2 separate regions of the Homo sapiens genome follow, and region 1 is linked to region 2. The links come from fine-mapping of genetic effects on gene expression. A gene starts in region 2. The other region holds a variant in brackets. All regions are shown on one strand. Distances are from middle to middle.

Region 1 (8,954 bases), 31 kb before region 2:
TCTCATTTATACCCAAACTTTTCTACCTTTGGAAGGGACATTAGGAGAGGCCACTGTGCTAGTCCAGATTGCTGGCAACAATAGTAGTTTAACAAGTGCCTCCCCTTCAGTCCACTCCAATTTATATAGATTAGGGCTATATAGCTACAGGACTAATGGACTATCTTAGCCACTGGATGATACAGCAGCATTTACTGTCAACTCAAATTTTGCCAGATGGGTTGAGGGCACAACTTAACCTATAGGGTCCTTAGAAATGCTGAAATAAAGATTTAAAGGTATAGTTACAATGTCTTGCCTAGGAATTATCTATGCTTCTGGCACCTGCAGATGTATCTCTAGTCCTGGAACCTCTGCATCAGATGGCAAAAAAGAAAGTTGAGGTGATGTGGGCAAGAATCATATAGTCATACCAACACCCTCCCTCAACCCCTCTCCCCTAGATTTTCCTAGAAAAATGGAGGAATCTCTCCAATGGGGATTCTCCCTTGGCCCCCTCATGGTGCATGTGAGCATACCCTCATGAAAACATTTAAACAAGTGCTTCATAACTTTATCCCCTCCCCCATTTTACTTGATTTTTAAATTTTATTTTCTTATTTTATTTGGTTTTTTTTTTTTAGAGACAGGTTCTTGTTTTGTTGCCCAGGCTGGAGTGCAGTGGCATGATATCTCACTGCAGCTTTGAACTCTTGCGCTAAAGTGATCCTCCCGCCTCGTCCTCCCAAAGTGCTGGGATTATAGGCATGAGCCACTGCACCCTCACTCACCTCATTTTAGACAATGAATGTTTCAAGTGCTCATTCCAATTCCCTATTAAACTGCTACTCTGAGGATGACAATGCAACGTGGTATGTCTGTTTGATGTGATATCTCTTTGTCCACTGTTGGACATCATGGGCTGTAAAGTGTGACTCTTGGTTTGAAGAAATGTAACTTGGTGGTCCAAATTAGTACAGTATCTTTTGTTCCAATAATTTAATAGTATTTTCAGCATTCGTATCTACCACTAGGTGTGCAAAGCCCAGTCCAAAGTAAGTGTCTATTCCTGGCCGGGTGCAGTGGCTTACGCCCGTAATCCCAGCACTTTGGGAGGCCAAGGCAGATGGATCACCTGAGGTCAAATTTTGAGACCAGCCTGGTCAACATGGTGAAACCCAGTCTCTATTAAAACTACAAAAGAATTAGTCAGGTGTGGTGGCAGGCGACTGTAATCCCAGCTACTCGGGAGGCTGAGACAGGAGAATCACTTGAACCCAGGAGGAGGAGGTAGCAGTGAGCGGAGATCACACCACTGCACTCCAGCCTGGGTGACAGACCAAGACTCCATCTCAAAAACAAAAAAACCAAAAAACCAAAGTAAGTGTCTATTCCTGTCAGACCCCATTTGTAGCCCCCAGGGCTGCCAGCATTTGTTCAATGTAATCTATCTACCAGCTATGTGTGAGGCCTTCCAACGGGGGAATGTGCCCCAGGGCCACCTGCATTCTCTGTCTCTCTTGCTGGCAGACAAAACAGTTCTTGTTGGCATTTTGTGCTTCAAAGGGTGCAAGAGGAATATGTCTAGATCTCTACATTGCCACAGTATTCTTAGGTCCACTCATTCCATGGACCCAGGTGGCCACCTCAAGTGAGCACACTGGGAAATTCACTCACTGGTGCCAATCACCTTCCAATCCAGGAAAGTGATTCTTCTATTGGGCATTGATATGTCCTACTTTAATCTATCCCTCAAATTTCCATAGTGATTTTCTTAGGGGATCCCTTTAAGAGGGCAGTTTTCTATTGCTCTTCAGCCTGACCATATGATCACGTCAGTATGCACCACCCATGAATCAGTAAAAACCCAAATGTAGTGGCAAACAGAATGCAATAGCCTATAAGGTAAGTTGTTTTTACCTTCTTAGCCTTCCAAACAAGATGCTGCACATTCACCTTGGAACTGCGATTATAAACCAAGAAGCTCTTTGCTGTTTATAGGACACTCTCCAGGTAGCAGTAGAATCTGACAGCTCCAGCCAGGTGCTGTGGCTCACGCCTATAATCCCAGCACTTTGGGAGGCCGAAGAGGGCGGATCACCTGAGGTCAGGAGTTTGAGACCAACCTGGTCAACATGGGGAAACCCCATCTCTACTAAAAATATAAAAATTAGCTGGGCATGGTGGTGCACACCTGTAATCCCAGCTAGTCGGGAGGCTGAGGCAGGAGAATCGCTGGAACCTGGGAGGCGGAGGTTACAGTGAGCAGTGAGCCAAGATCGCAACACTGCACTCCAGCCTGGGTGACAGAGCAAGGCTCCATCTCAAATAAAATATAAAATAAAATAAAATAAAATAAAATAAAATAAAATCTGGCAGCTCCTCAGGTGGTTCAAAAGTCAATTCTAGGGGAAAAAGTCTATCTGCTTGGAAATATGGTATCTCCTGGCATTCCCCCAGTGGTATGTTCCATCAGAAACAACTTCCATTTTGTTATGGAGCTCTTCCAGGCACTTCTCTCCCCATTGAATGGTTTCTCCAACATCATCCAAAATGTTATGGGTATTTTATGTTTAAGATTATTTTATATCTTTCAGTTATAGTGGAAGTTTTACTTAATGTCTGATAAGAAATAAGTAATTTCCCTGCAAATGGGAATTCTCTGGTCCAAAGTCCCAGCAGTTATTGCTGGGTGGCACTCACAGACTTTTGCCATAAGCTCCAGCCTATACTTCACACAGGGCTATTGTACAGAGAATTTTCCCTACTGGCACTTCAGCTTCTATTTTATACTGTTTGAAATTAACAATCAGTGTGACTTGGGCCATCTTATTTGTTCCCATTTTAGCACATCCAATTAATATTACCCATAGGGTGAATTTGTTTTGTTTTTTTTTTTTTTGAGACAGAGTCTTGCTCTGTCACTCAGGCTGGAGTACAGTGGCGCGATCTCGGCTCACTGCAACCTTCGCCTCCCGAGTTCAAGTGATTCTCCTGCCTCAGCCTCCTGAGTAGCAGGGTTACAGGCACCCGCCACTGTGCCCGGATAATTTTTGTATTTTTAGTAGAGACAGGGTTTCGTCATTTTGGCCAGCCTGGTCTCAAGCTCCTGACCTCATGATCCACCTGCCTCAGCCTCTCAAAAGTGCTGGGATTACAGGTGTGAACCAGTGGGCCTGGCCCCAAAGGGTGAATTTATGTGCCTTCTGTTTATAATACTAGGGAGGGGAAATGTTCCACGGTCAGATACAATATCCCCATACTACATTCAACGAAAAGAGATGCTATTCACACATACAAACTGTTCAAACATACGAATTTTAATCCAAACTTTTGTCACTTTAGTTTCATCAACCCTTGCATCCCTGACTGAAGCTTCCACTAGGACTTCACCAACAGATTTTCATTTTATAAATACTAGGTAGGGAAAGTGTGCCCCATTAAGACATAATATTCATTCTCTTAAAACATCCGTGTATAGGAGCTACAACCCCTTCACATAAATCCCATCTAAACACTCTATTTTTATCCCTTAATCCCATCCACCCTTGATTTCTATACACTTTTGTTCTAATTGTGGTCTTAGTGAGGGCTCACTAGCAGGGGACTACAGTGTATGTGGCTCCTATGTTAAGGAGTCCTAGAAATGTCCCTTTT[C/G]CACCCTGACAGTTTTTCTCACTGATGTGCATAAGGCCTTGGGTCTGCAATGGCTGTGGGGGTATGGGGTGGTGGTGGTAGTGAACCAAAGGAAGCTGACCCATTTGTCATCAATCCTTATACTGATTTGGTTATGGGACTATTGCCCCAGGTGATTCAAGGTAAGGTTTCTTGAATTCCTCCAAACAAGGTTGGATAAATCATATTTGTCCAGGGCCCTTCATGTTGGGACAACAGCAGGGGCTCCCTTTGGTCCACCTCAACCTCTCAGAGTACTGCTCTAAGACCGTTGTTTTGACCCCATTCACGTCAGCCTTATTCCATTTATTTTTTTGAGACAGAGTCTCGTTCTGTCACCCAGGCTGGGGTGCAGTGACACAATCTCAGAACTATGGTAATATAATGCTCCCTTCCTTATAAGGATGACGTAAAGCAGTGTTTCTCAAAGTGTATTCCCTGTGCCAGCAGTCTCAGCATCTCCTGATAATTGAATTAAAAGGCAGATTTCAGGCGTCACCATACCTGTTGAATCAGAAACTCTGGTTTCTGTGTTTTAAGACTTCTAGGAGATTCCAGTGGAGTCTAGACTTTGAGAACAACTGTTGATGAGATTAAGTGAGTTAATAATAAGCTTTAGGACAGTGCCTGGCACATACTAAGCAGTATATTCATGAATATTTTTAAGCGAATACAATAAAATATGGTCAACATATAGAAAGTTTAATTTAGGCAACAAGATGTTGCCCATGCTGTTCCCCCAAGAAATAAATCCTGCTTAATTCCTTGTCCAAAGGCATCAACATGGACTGCCAAACCCCTCATCATGTGGCTTCTGCCTTCCTTTCCTACTATTTCTATTCTCCATATACACTAGGTCTCCAACTTTTCTAGTACTCAGTATGAGAATTGCTTACTCACACCTCCAAGGCTTTGCCTATTCTGTTCCCTCTGCATGGTTCCTTCTCTTCCTTTTTAAAAAAGAACCTCTTTTCTCTCACTTCCTACACTTGCAATCTCCCGAATTCCTACATCTCCCTCAAAACCCAGCTCCAGTGTCACCTCTGTGATGACCTCACTGCTGTCCAGTCAGAGCCAGGCATTTGCTAGGCCTCAACACCGCCCTACACATCCCACTTATAGTACTTAGAGCAGTTTGTAACTGTTTACAGTTTCATTTCGTCTTTTTGAATTTCTTAATTGAGGTGAAATTCATGTTACATATAATTAGTCATTTTAAAGTGTGGCTGGGAGTGGTGGCTCACACCTGTAATCCCAGCACTTTTCAGAGGCTGAGGCACGTGGATCACTTGAGGTCAGGAGTTTGAGACCAGCCTAACCAACATAGCCAAACCCCATCTCTACAAAAATACAAAAAATTAGCCAGGCGTGGTGGCACACACCTATAATCCCAGCTACTTGGGAGGCTGAGGCAGGAGAATCGCTTGAACCTGGGAGGTGGAGGTTACGGTGAGCCAACATCATGCCACTGCACTCCAGCCTTGGCCATAGAGCAAAACTCTGTCTCTCTCACACACACACACAAACACACACACACAAAAAAAAAGGAAAGGAAAAAAGAAAAGAAAAATGGCCATGCGTGGTGGCTCACGCCTGTAATCCCAGCACTTTGGGAGGCCAAGGTGGGCGGATCACCTGAGGTCAGGAGTTTGAGACTAGCCTGGCCACATGGTGAAACCCCGTCTCTACTAATAATACAAAAATTAGCCAGGGTGAGCCGAGATAGTGCCGCTGCACTCCAGCCTGGGAAACAAGAGTGAAATTCTGTCTCAAAAAAAAAAAAGTGTATGATTCAGTGGTATTTAGTGTATTCGCACTGTTGTGCAACCATCACTTCTTTCTAGTTTCAAAACTTTTCCATCATGCCCAAAACACATGCCATACCCATTAAGTAATCACTTCCCATTCCTCTCTCTCCCCTCCCCAGGTGACCACTAAGCAGTTTTCTGTCTTTATGAATTTGCCTATTCTGGATATATTATATAAAAGAAGGCAAACAATAACAACATGTGACTTTCAGTGTTTGGCTTATTTTATTTTATTATTTTATTTTATTTTATTTTATTTTTGAAGCAGAGTTTCACTCCATTGCCCAGGCTGGAGTGCAGTGACGTGATCTTGGCTCACTGCAACCTGCACCTCCCAGGTTCAAGCGCTTTTCCTGCCTCAGCCTTCCAAGTAGCTGAGATTACAGGTGCTCGTCACCACACTCAGCTAATTTTTGTATTTTTAGTAGAAACAGGATTACACCATGTTGGCCAGGTTGGTCTCAAACTCCTGACCTCAGGTGATCTGCCCGCCTCGGCCTCCGAAAGTGCTGGGATCACAAGTGTGAGCCACTGTGCCTGGCCAGTGTCTGACTTCTTTTACTTAGCATTAGTTTAAAGTTCATCCAAGTTGTGGCATGTATCAATATTTGGGGTTTTTTTTTGCTGTATAATATTCCATTAAATGTTCATATCACAATTTATTTATCCATCATCTGTTGATGAGCATTTGGGTTATTTTCACCATTCGGTTATTATGAATACTGCTGCTATAAACATTTGTGTGCAAGTTTCTGTGTAGATATATGTTTTCATTTCTCTTGAGTATATACTAAGGAGTAGAATTGATGGGTCATATGGTAATTATATGTTTAACTTTTTGAGGAACTGCTAGCTGTTTCCAGAGTAGCTGCACCATTTTACTTTCCCAATAGCAAGGTATGAGAGTTCCTGTTTTTCCACATCCTCACCAACACTTGTTATTTTATTTAAAAAATTTATCATTATAGCAGTATGGTGAGTGTGTAGTGATATCTCATTGTGCCTTTAATTTGCGTTCCCTTTATGATCAATGATGTTGAACATCTTTTCATATGCTTGTTAGCCATTTGTATAGCCTATGTGGAGAAATAGCCATTCAAGTTGCTTGCCTTATTAAAAACTGGATTGAGACCAGCCTGGGCAACATAGCTACACCTTGTCTCTACTAAAAATCAAAACAATTAGCTGGGTGTGGTAGTGTGCTCCTGTAGTAACAGCACTCAGGAGGCTGAGGCAGGAGAATTGCTTGAGCCCAGGAGGTAGAGGCTGCAGTGAGCTGTGATCATCCCACTGCACTCCAGACTGGGCAACACAGTGAGATTCTGTCTCAAAAAAATAAATAAAAAATAAAATTGGATTGTCTTTGTTGTTGTTGAGTTGTAAAAGTTCTTTATATATACTGCATACTAGACCCTTATCAGATATATAATTTTCATAATTTTCTCCTATTCAAAGGCTGTCTTTTCACTTTCTTGATAGTGTCCTTTGATGCACCAAAGTTTTTAATCTCTATGAAGTCCAATTTATCACTTTTTTTTGTTGCTCATGCTTTTGGTGTCACATCTAAGAATTCATTGCCAAATCAGAGGTCATGAAGATTAATCCCTAGGTTTTCTTCTAACAGTTTCATAGCTTTAGTTCTGTTATTTAAGTTGTTAATCTATTTTGAGTTAATTTTTGTATATGGAGAGAGGTAATGGTCTAGTGTCATTTCTCTTTTTTTTTTTTTTTTGCATATTAGCTACCCAGTTTTCTCAGCATTATTTTTGAAGAGATTTCTTTTTTCCATTGAATAATCTTGGCTTCATTATCAAAAATCAGTTGGTTATAGATGTTTGGGTTATTTCCAGGCTCTAATCCTATACAGTTGTTCTGTGTCAATATTAAGTCTTCCAATGCATAAACATTGAAGGGATGTCTTTCCATTTATTTAGGTCTTCTTTAATTTATTTCAGCAATGTTTTCTAGTTTTCATTTTATAAGGTTTTAACCTCTTTGGTAATTGTATTCCAAGGAATTTTATTCTTTTTGAAAACATGTAAATGAAATTATTCTCTTAATTTCCTTTCTGGATTTTAAATTGCTATTGCATAGAAACAACTAATTTTTGTGTGTTGATCTTGTAGTCTGAAACTGCTTAATTTATTATCCCCAATAGTTTTTTTGTGAATTCTATGAGACTTTCTATTTATAGAATCATATCATATGCAAATACAATTTTACTTCTTCCTTTCCAAATTGGATGCCTTTATTTATTTATTTTTCTTGCCTAGTTTCTCTGGCTAAAACTTCTGGTACGGTAGTAAATATAAGTGGTAAAAGTGGCATCTTTAGGCCAGGTGTGGTGGTTCACGCCTGTAATCCTAGTGCTTTGGGAGGCTGAGGCGGGTGCATCACCTGAGGTCAGGAGTTCGAGACCAGCCTGACCAACACAGTGAAACCCCATTTCTACTAAAAATACAAAAATTAGCTGGGCATGGTGGTGGGTGCCTGTAATCCCAGCTACTTGGGAGGCTGAGGCAGGAGAATCGCTTGCATCCAGGAGGCAGAGGTTGCAGTGAGCTGAGATCTCGTCGTTGCACTCCAGCCTGGGTTACAGAGCGAGACTCTGTCTCAAAAAAAAACAAAACACACACACACACACACACACACACACACACACACACACACACACAAAGAAAGAAGATGTTTCCTCCTTTTCTGTTTTTTGAAAGAGTTTAAGTAAGATTGGCATTAAGTCTTTTTAATATTTGGTAGAATTCACCAGTGAAGCTATCTGGTCTTGAACTTTTTTTTGTTGTGAGATTTTTGGTTACTGATTCAATCTCTTGTTATAAATATGTTGTTGAGGCAGTTTTGGCAATAAGTGTGTCCTAGGAATTTGTCCATTTCATCTAGATTACCTAATTTGTTGGCATATCGTGTTCAAAATATTTTCTTTCAATCGTTTTAATTTCTGTAAGGTCAGTAGTAATGTTCCACTTTAATTAACCTTCCTTCTTCCTTCCCTCCCTCCCTCCCCCTTCCCCCCCTTCTTTTCCTTCCCTTTCCTTTCCTTTTCCTTTTCCCCTTCCTTCCTTCCTTCCTCCCTCTCTCTTTCTTTCCTCTTTTTTTTTTTTCCAGGGTCTCATTCTGTCACCCAGGCTGGAGTGCAGTGGTGTGCGGCCTTGAACTCCTGGGCTCAAGCACTCCTCCTGCCTTAGCCTCCCAAGTAGTTAGGACCACAGATGTGTGCCACCAGGCCTGGCTAAATAAACAAAAAAATTGTAGAGATGGGGTCTGTCTATGTTGCCCAGGCTGGTACTTTCATTTCTGATTTTAGTTATTTGTACTTTCTTTTTTTTCTCAGACTAAAGGTTTGTCAATTTTGTTGATCTTTTAAAAGAACCAACTCTTGGTTTTACCGATTTTCTATTTTTTCCATTCCTTATTTTGTTTATCTATGCTCTAATTTTTAATTTTAATTCTGGCAATATATACATAGTCATGCAC
Region 2 (8,954 bases):
TGACATGCTTGGATATTCTGACTTGTCCTATATTTCCCTCTTTCTTAGGTCTGTTTCTGTTCCCTGAAATGTAAACTTGTGACTAAGATACCTAACCTCCTGAAATTGCGGCCCAGCAGGTCTCAGTCTCATTTTATCCAGCCCCTGTTCAAGATGGAGTTGCTCTGATTTGAATGCCTCTGACAGATGCACTTTACGGCTTTTCTTTTCTTTTCTTTTTTTTTTGAGACAGAGTCTCACTCTGTCACCCAGGCTAGAGTGTAGTGGTGAGATCTCAGCTCACTGCAACCTCTACCTCCCAGGTTCAAGTGATTCTCCTGCCTCAGCCTCCCAAATAGCTGGGATTACAGGAGCACACCACCACATCTGGCTAATTTTTGTATTTGCAGTAGAGACAGGTTTCACCATGTTGGCCAGGCTGGTCTTGAAGTCTGGAGACCTCCAGTGAGCCACCCACCTCGGCCTTCCAAAGTGCTGAGATTACAGGCATGAGCCACCATGCCCAGCCATTTTATGGCTTTTCTTGGCATATCTGAATTGTGGGCATCACTATTCTTGTGCTGGGGGTCCATTATTAAGTAAAATAAGGGTTACTGAACACAGGCACTGCTATATGGTAACTGTTGATCTGACAACCCAGACAGCTCCTAAGTTACTAACGAGCTAGTAGTGCCTACAGTGTAGATACACTGTACAAAGGGATGATTCATATCCTGGATATGTGATGGGTTACAATCCAAACAGTTAAAACTTTAGGTTGGGTGCAGTGGCTTATGCCTGTAATCCCAGCACTTTGGGAGGCAGAGGCAGGTGGATTACCTGAGGTCAGGAATTCACAACTAGCCTGGCCAACATGGTGAAACCCTGTCTCTACTAAAAATACAAAAATTAGCAGGGTGTGGTAGTGCATGCCTGTAATCCCAGCTACTCAGAAGGCTGAGGCAGGAGCATCACTTGAACCCCAGATGCAGAAGTTGCAGTGAGCTGAGATCAAACCACTGCACTCCAGCCTAGGTGACAGAGAGAGACTCTGTCTCAAAAAACAAAACAAAACAAACAAAACCCAAAAAACTAAAAAAAATAATAATAATAAATAAATAAAATGTTGCAGTATTTGCACATAACCTACATACATCTCCCACATGCTTTAAATCATCTCTAGATTACTTATAATTCCTAATACAATGTAAATGCTATGTAAATAGTTGTTATACTATATTGTTTAGGGAATCATGACAAAAATATTGTATAAAGTTATCTTCAGGCTATTATCTAAAGTGTATATGAAACATAAATGAATTTTGTATTCAGACTTGGGTCCCATCCAAATCTATCTCATTATATATACGCAAATATTCCAAAATCTGAAAAAATCCAAAACTTCTGGTCTGGAGCATTTTGGATAAAGGATAGTCAACCTGGCTGGGTGTGGTGGCTCATGCCTGCAATCCCAGCACTTTGGGAGCCCGAGGCAGGCAGATCACCTGAGGTTGGGTGTTCAAGACCAGCCTGACCAACACGGAGAAACCCTGTCTCTACGAAAAATACAAAATTAGCCAGGTGTGGTGGTGCATGCCTATAATCCCAGCTACTTGGGAGGCTGAGGCAGGAGATTTGCTTGAACCTGGGAGGTGGAGGTTGCAGTGAGCTGAGATTGCGCCATTGCACTCCAGCCTGGGCAACAAGAGTGAAACTCTGCCTCAAAAAAAAAAAAAAAAGGATAGTCAACCTGTATAACATATCAATCCTCAACAATATCTGCTCCCTTTTTTTTTTGAGACGGAGTCTCACTCTTTCGCTCAGGCTGGAGTGCAGTGGCGTGATCTTGGCTCACTGCAACCTCTGCCTCCCAGGTTCTAGTGAGCAATTCTCCTGCCTCAGCCTCCTGAGTAGCTGGGATTACAGACACATGCCACCACACCCGGCTAATTTTTGTATTTTTAGTAGAGACAGGGTTTCATCATGTTAGCCAGGGTGGACTCGATCTCTTGACCTCGTGATCCGCCCACCTCAGCCTCCCAAAGTGCTGGGATTATAGGCATGAGCCACCACACCTGGCCCAGATATATTACTCTTTAAAAAAAATTTTTTTTTTTGCAATCAGATATGTTACATCACCACTACTGCCTTAGTCAGCTCAGGCTACCGTAATAAAATACCATAGACTGGTGGCTTAACCAACAGAAATTTATATATATTCTCACAGCTATTTCTCACACATAAAAAACTATCTTTTATGTGTTCCCCCGACCCCCACTGGATTGGAATTCCCTAAGGGCATGGATGTTTCTGATTCATCTTTGTATTTCAGGCTTTAGCACAAGGCCTGAGGTGAAATGTGGTTCTGTAACCATTTGATGAAGTGTGATCAGAGCTATTCAAGGGAAGAAAAAAACTGCCTTGAGATGATTAATTCTCTGATACTAGAAATCTCTCAACTGGCTGGTTGAAGGCCCCTTGGGGACATTCCAGTGAGTGTCCAGCTAATTTAACTGTTTTCTGACATATTTTGAGTCTGGTTCTGGTAATGTCTGTAACTCTCTTATCAATGTTAATTTCCATTCCCTATTCCTATCTGTGTGGCTCTGGACATTGGCCAGAGGCAGGTGCTGGGCCTATATGCCTCCTCCCACCTTTCTCCCATGCTCCCTGTGAGGCAGGCATCTAGCTCTCTGATGGATGTGGCTGCCTCCTCATTGAAATGAAGAAGGGGCTCAGAAGAAACAGCACCTCTTGATGGCTGATGCTGTAGGTCTCTGAGCTAATGTGGACTAGAGGACAAATCCTGTTTATTCTGAAGTTTTGAAGAGTCTGAGATGCTTTCCTATTTGCCAATCAGTCAGCCTGAAAAGGTTATCTGCATATGTGTTCTAACAGAACACAGGATCTCTAATTCAGAGACCGACTGTATCTTGCGTCAGTTCCCTAGGCCCAAATTTCCCATTATGTCGGGGAGTGACACAGTGAAAGCCTCCGGGTGAAGAGAGGTTTTACAAGAGAGGAACCCTAATATTATGAAACTCAGAGCTTGTGCAGGATAGGAGGCTGTCCCTCTTCCTTGAGTGGTAAGGGAGACAGACAGAGAGGGAGAGGGAGGGTGTGTGAGTGTGTGTGTGTGTGAGAGAGAGAAAGAATAAGGAAATAAGCAAATGGCTGTGGGTTTTATTACCTTTGAAAGGGAGCAGCTGGCTCTTGGGAAGTGCATAGGAGAGGAAATATTTTGTATCTTCCAAATATCATGCAAATACCTTTTAATCCAGATGCCAATAATCTGCTCAGAAAGCCCTGACTGCACACTCATTGTTTCTCCCATGCAGCCCTAGCCAGGAGTCCTTTCCTGGCTCCTTCTATCCCCGCAGTTCTTTTCTTGAGGAGGACAGATAGGGTTTCTTAGGGAGTTAGGATGAAGAAAGCCTAAGTATGATGAATTCCCCATCCAGCACTGTGCCCAGCACATAGCAGACATCCAATAAAGGTCTGTTAAATGAATGACACGGACCCGTTGTTTAAGATTTTAATAAAGGTGGGGCAAAGGGTTGAATTGGTCGAAAAGTCCTCAACGTCCTGACGGGACTCCCCTGAAGCCAAGGCAGTTTGAGTCCATTCATTATTCTGTCTTGGATCTTAGGCAAAGCCCCGGGCCCCTTGGAGCAGCACCAGGGTTCCCGACACCCCCACCGACAGGGTCGAACGTGCACAGGCTGGGACCACGCCGGAGTTCATTGAGCCCTCGTGGGGGAGGGCAGTTCCAGGGACCAGGAAGGGATTCCCGTCCAGTGTCAGGTTATCCACCTCGGGCAGCTCGTCAGGCTGCGGCGCCCTGTTCAGTCTGTTGCAGCTGAGATCGAGCACTCTGAGCTTGGCTGGCAGTCCTTTAGGCACCTGTTCCAGCCCAGCGAACGACAGATTGAGGGAGTTCAGGGCGCTGGACCACATGCATCTCGGAGCGCTAGGGTTTACGGTGGCGCGCAGCGAGTTGTGGCTGAGGTCTAGGCTGTGGGGCTGCACACCTGCCGCCGCCAGTGCGGCGCACACGCCTGTGGGCGTCTCCATTCCTGTGTTGCGCAGCGCTAGATTCTGGATGGCCGGGAACTTGTGGGGACAGAGAGCCGCCATCAGTCCGCGTTCGCCCAGTCCAGGATTGTCAGACAGGTCTAGGCTGGTAAGGGCCGGGAAGGCGCGAACCTGTTCGCAGGAAAAGGCAGGCGAGTGTGCTTGGGCAATGCTCAGTACCTTGAGGCCTGGCTTGAGCCACTGCTGCAGCTCGGCGAGCCAAGAACGCCCTGTCGCCCACGACACGTTGCGTAGGCGCAAGCTGGAAAGTGCAAGTCCTGTGGCTTCCAGAGGCAGCGGAGGCATGGTGCCGGTTATCTTTAGGTCCTCGAGCGTCAGTTCCTTGAGGCGGGAGTACGCTAGCACACGCAGGGCGCCTACCAGTAGCTGAGCAGGAACCTGTGCGGCTCCCACTGTGAGCCGCCGCACGCGGAGAGCCTTGACCGTGTCAGCATACTGCCGCGGGTCGGCGTCCGCATCGACGCGCTTTAGAAACGGCTCTAGGTTGAGACCGCCGGCATGGATCTCCACCTCTACTGCAGACACACACTGGAAGGCTTCGGACCAGTCGGGCTGAGGTTCGGAGAAGTTGCAGACGCAGCGGAAATCTTCATCGTCCAGCTCACAAGGTTCTGGCGTGGTCGCAGAGACGTGCACCAGCGGCAGCAGCAGCAGCAACAAGCAGGACGCGCGCTCCTGGGGAGAGAGCAGAGGTCTAGGAGGCCCCATCCAACCCCTGTGGCTCCCGAGTGGCACGCGTTCGACCCCAAGACCCTACACTCACCATGGTCGATAAGTCTTCCGAACCTCTGAGCTCCGGACAGGCTCTGGAAGTGCTTTAGCTTCTTTCCTACACAGCGGCACCCGCCGGCTTCCAGGCTTCACACTTGTGAACTCTTCGGCTGCCTCTGACAGTTTATGTAATCCTGGGATGTCATTCAGTTCCCTCCTCTGTGAACCCTGATCACCTCCCCACCTCTCTTCCTCCGAGCCAGCCCCCTTCCTTTCCTGGAAATATTGCAATGAAGGATGTTTCAGGGAGGGGGACCGTAACAGGAAGGATTCTGCAGGGCATCTAGGGTTCTGTGTCTCCTGGCAGTGTCCTGATGACTCAGGCGCCCCAGGCGGTGAATGCCCTGTTGACTCGGGAGCCTAAGCCTTCTCTGGTGGGTGTGGGAAAAGGATGATCCTCAGTGCCTTAGGCCAGTACCATACTCTGCACTATCCAACCCCCCAATCCCCCTACCTTATATCCCAGAGAATCTACTTGATTCATTTCTTTGACTTCTTCCTTGTCTTGGTTTATGTTGATCTCCTGCCACCAAATCCAAGTCCCTGAATATCCTCAGATATTTAACTGCATGTTTTGTGGAAGAGATTGTGAACCTCATCTGTTGGCACCAAGGGGGGTAGAATTAGGTTCAAGAAAAGGAAGTTGGTCTAAAGAAAAATTCCCCCTTCCTTTTTTTTTCCTTGCTCCTTTGATTAAGTAATAACTTTCTTTCTTTTTTTTTTTTTTTTTTGAGATAGAGTCTTGCTCTGTTGCTCAGGCTGGAGTAGAGTGCCATGATCTCGGCTCACTGCAACCTCCGCCTCCTGGGTTCAAGCAATTCTCTGCCTCAGCCTCCCGAGTAGCTGGGATTACAAGTGCCCACCACCACACCCAGCTAATTTTTGTATTTTTTAGTAGAGACAGGTTTTCATCATCTTGGCCAGGCTGGTCTTGAACTCCTGACCTTGTGATCCACCCGCCTCGGCCTCCCAAAGTGCTGGGATTACAGGCGTGAGCCACTGTGCCTGGCAGTACTAACTTTCTTAAAAGTGGATGTATTTAACAGAGACACATTGGCCAAGTCTCTGGGTCACTTACACTATCCATTTTCTGTCCTGAAATTGTGAAGCAAGGTATTTTGAATCAGTTTTCCCACTTGCACGTTGCTCTCTCCTGCCCTCCCCTCAGTACAATCTCTGTGCCCTAGGAAGGAAGGGATGGGACTATGTTGAATGAGGATTAATTAGTAACTCACCAGTTTCGCAAAAAACAGACAAAAACAGAAAACAAAACAAAATGAAAAAAACAGCAAACAAAACAAAACAAAAAAACAACAAATGTCCCAGAGAATAAGGAGCTACGCATTTACAACAGCCCTCACAGGTCCACATCCCTAGACCTCTGGGGAAAGAACTATATGAAAGTCTTTTTTTTTTTTTTTTTTTTTGAGACTGAGTTTGGCTCTGTTGCCCAGGCTGGAGTGCAGTGGCGTGATCTTGGCTCACTGCAACCTCCGCCTCCCAAGTTCAAGCAATTCTCTTGCCTCAGATTCCTGAGTAGCTGGGATTACAGGAGCCCACCACCATGCCCGGCTAATTTTTGTAGTTTTAGTAGAGACAGAGTTTCACTATGTTGACCAGGCACTCCTGACCTCAGGTGATCCGCCCGCCTTGGCCTCTCAAAGTGCTGGGATTACAGGCGAGAGCCACCACACCCGGCCTGAAAGTCTTTTTTACTTTTATTTATTTATTTGAGACGGAGTTTTGTTCTTGTTGCCCAGGCTGGGCGCGATCTCAGCTCACTGCAATCTCCGCCTCCCAGGTTCCAGCAATTCTCCTGCCTCAGCTTCCCGAGCGGCTGGGATTACAGGCATGTGCCACTACACCCGGCTAATTTTGTATTTTTAGTAGAGATGGGGTTTCTCCATGTTGGTCAGGCTGGTCTCGAACTCCCGACCTCAGGTGATTCACCTGCCTCGGCCTCCCAAAGTGCTGGGATTACAGGCATGAGCCACCGTGCCCGGCAGAAAGTCTTTTTTAAATTCCCACTTCCTCTTTAATTGAGAAAGAAGTAGCTGCAGATTTGTCCCCAATCCAAACAAGAAGGCTCATCACTGCCCCCTGCGGGTCCTGTTGGGCATACCCCAATGCACTGGGCCATGCCCTGGTGCCATGCCAGGCCTCTGTGATATCCCTGAGGACCAAGATATGATTATATCTGACTCAAAGTCAGATAGCCAGTCTTGGAATCCCAGCTTTACGACTGAGGTTATGAGACTTGGGCCTCCCTTCTGTAAAATGGAGATGATAGTATTACCTGTTTGTGAGTAAAGTCTTTGGCACAGAAACACATCTTTTTAGTGTGGTCTTGATGACTAGTCTTCTTTCTCAGAGTCTCTGCTTTCAGAGAACTCAGGCCACTGAAGTCTGACACCTCATCATCTTAGGGGAGGCACTCTGGGTGGGGAGTTCCAAGTTAAGAGGGGCAGTGATGGTTCTGCAAAGATCTCCAACTCACAGCTTGATTCAACAAATGTCTATCATTTGTCTACCGAGTACTAGGGTTGGTAGAAAGCCCTGGGACACAGACATGACAAAGACAAGTCCCTGAAGTGCTCCAGGAGGTGGGTAGAGCAAACATGAACCCAGAACTTCCGTCCATAGTGCAGAGGGCTCTTAAAAGAAGAGAAACCAAAGGCTTGTGTTGTTGGGGGAGAGGGGTGGAGGGGAGGAACATGGTCTGGAGAAAGGAACAGCCAGCCCTGTACAAGACAGGACATGGGGCTGGTTCTTACAGGGTTAACAGTGTTGCTAGACAGGTAGATACAGAAAGGCAATTTGGGCAGCTGTAGCTGTCTGAGCAGACACTGGGCAGAATATAGCTTTTGGCTGGGAACTTTTTTCATCTTCCCCACCTGGAGCACATGTGGGTTTTGTTGTTGTTGTTATTGTTGTTGTTTTAGATGGAGTTTCACTCTTGTTGCCCAGGCTGGAGTGCAATGATGCAATCTTGGCTCATCGCAACCTCCACCTCCTGGGTTCAAGCGAGTCTCCTGCCTCAGTCTCCTGAGTAGCTGGGATTACAAGCACGTGCCACCACACCTGGTTAATTTTGCATTTTTAGTAGAGACGGGGTTTCACCATGTTGGTCATGCTGGTCTCGAACTCCTGACCTCAGGTGATCCACCTGCCTCCATCTCCCAAAGTGCTGGGATTATAGGCATGAGCCACCTTGCTGGGCCAAGTGTGGGTCTTAGAAGCTAGCCTGGGTTAGGTGCAGTGGCTCATGCCAGTAATTCTAGCACTTTGGGAGGCCAAGCTGAAAGGATCATTTAAGGCTGAGTTCCAGGCTGTGATAAGCCATGATTGCACTACTGCACTGCAGCGTGGGCAACCGAGCAAGACCCTGGCTCAAAAAAAAAAATAAATAAATAAAATAAAAATAAAAAAGTTTTTCTTGGGGAAATAAGAAAATAAATTTTTTTTAATTAAAAAATTAAAAAAAGAAGCCAGACAGTTGCATGAGGAAGGGCTCAAGATCCAGGCCCTATCCCTGGCCAGAGCATGGTGCACAGCAGGTACTCAGTAAATGGCTCTCCAGGGGCTGGATGGATACTGGGAGAGAAGATATGGAGGATGGAATGATGGCCTGTAGATATTTTAACATGCTGTTTTGTGGAAGAGATTGCAGACTTCATTGATTAACTCCAAGGGGTAGAATTAAGTTCAAGGGAAAGAAATTGGTTTTAAGAATAACCTTTTTCCTAGATTTGTACTTAATTGAACCTTTGCCTAAGTTATATGGCTTTTTAAAAATTAGAGGTTTCCTGTAAAAATTCTTAGGTGCCACCGGGACCCTAATCTTCTGGAGCTGCCAAGGGGGTCTGGGAGGAGACAACATCAAATAATTACACTATAACTTAATGATAGCTGTGAAAAGGGTTGTGAAGAAGCTGGGTCATTGGTACAATGGTTCTGAGTAGGTGACACTGGACTTGACATGTTGAGAATGGTGTTGAGGGAAGGATGCTGGTAGAAAGAAAAGGGAAGGATGCAGGCAGAGAAAACAGCTTGTGCGAGAGCCTCCCCCAAGAGTGGGAGTAGGGTGGAGGAGAAAAAGAACAGGGCTT

What was found.
Region 1: its variant is fine-mapped to the expression of CD14 in whole blood (INTERVAL, PIP above 0.99).

What each region holds. Positions count from the first base shown.
Region 1 is chr5:140,597,603-140,606,556 of GRCh38, forward strand. It overlaps a transcript of TMCO6 not described here. Among named protein-coding and RNA genes, the nearest start is that of CD14, 31 kb to the right of the region's middle. The variant C/G (reference allele first, on the strand shown) is at 3,637.
Region 2 is chr5:140,628,232-140,637,185 of GRCh38, forward strand. It overlaps CD14 (CD14 molecule), which reads right to left and starts at 4,944. Exons shown (of 2, transcript NM_000591.4): 1 at 4,838-4,944; 2 at 3,501-4,749. The coding sequence starts at 4,840. The coding sequence ends at 3,625. It also overlaps a transcript of TMCO6 not described here. RefSeq lists enhancers at 3,587-4,088, 3,817-3,876, 4,089-4,588.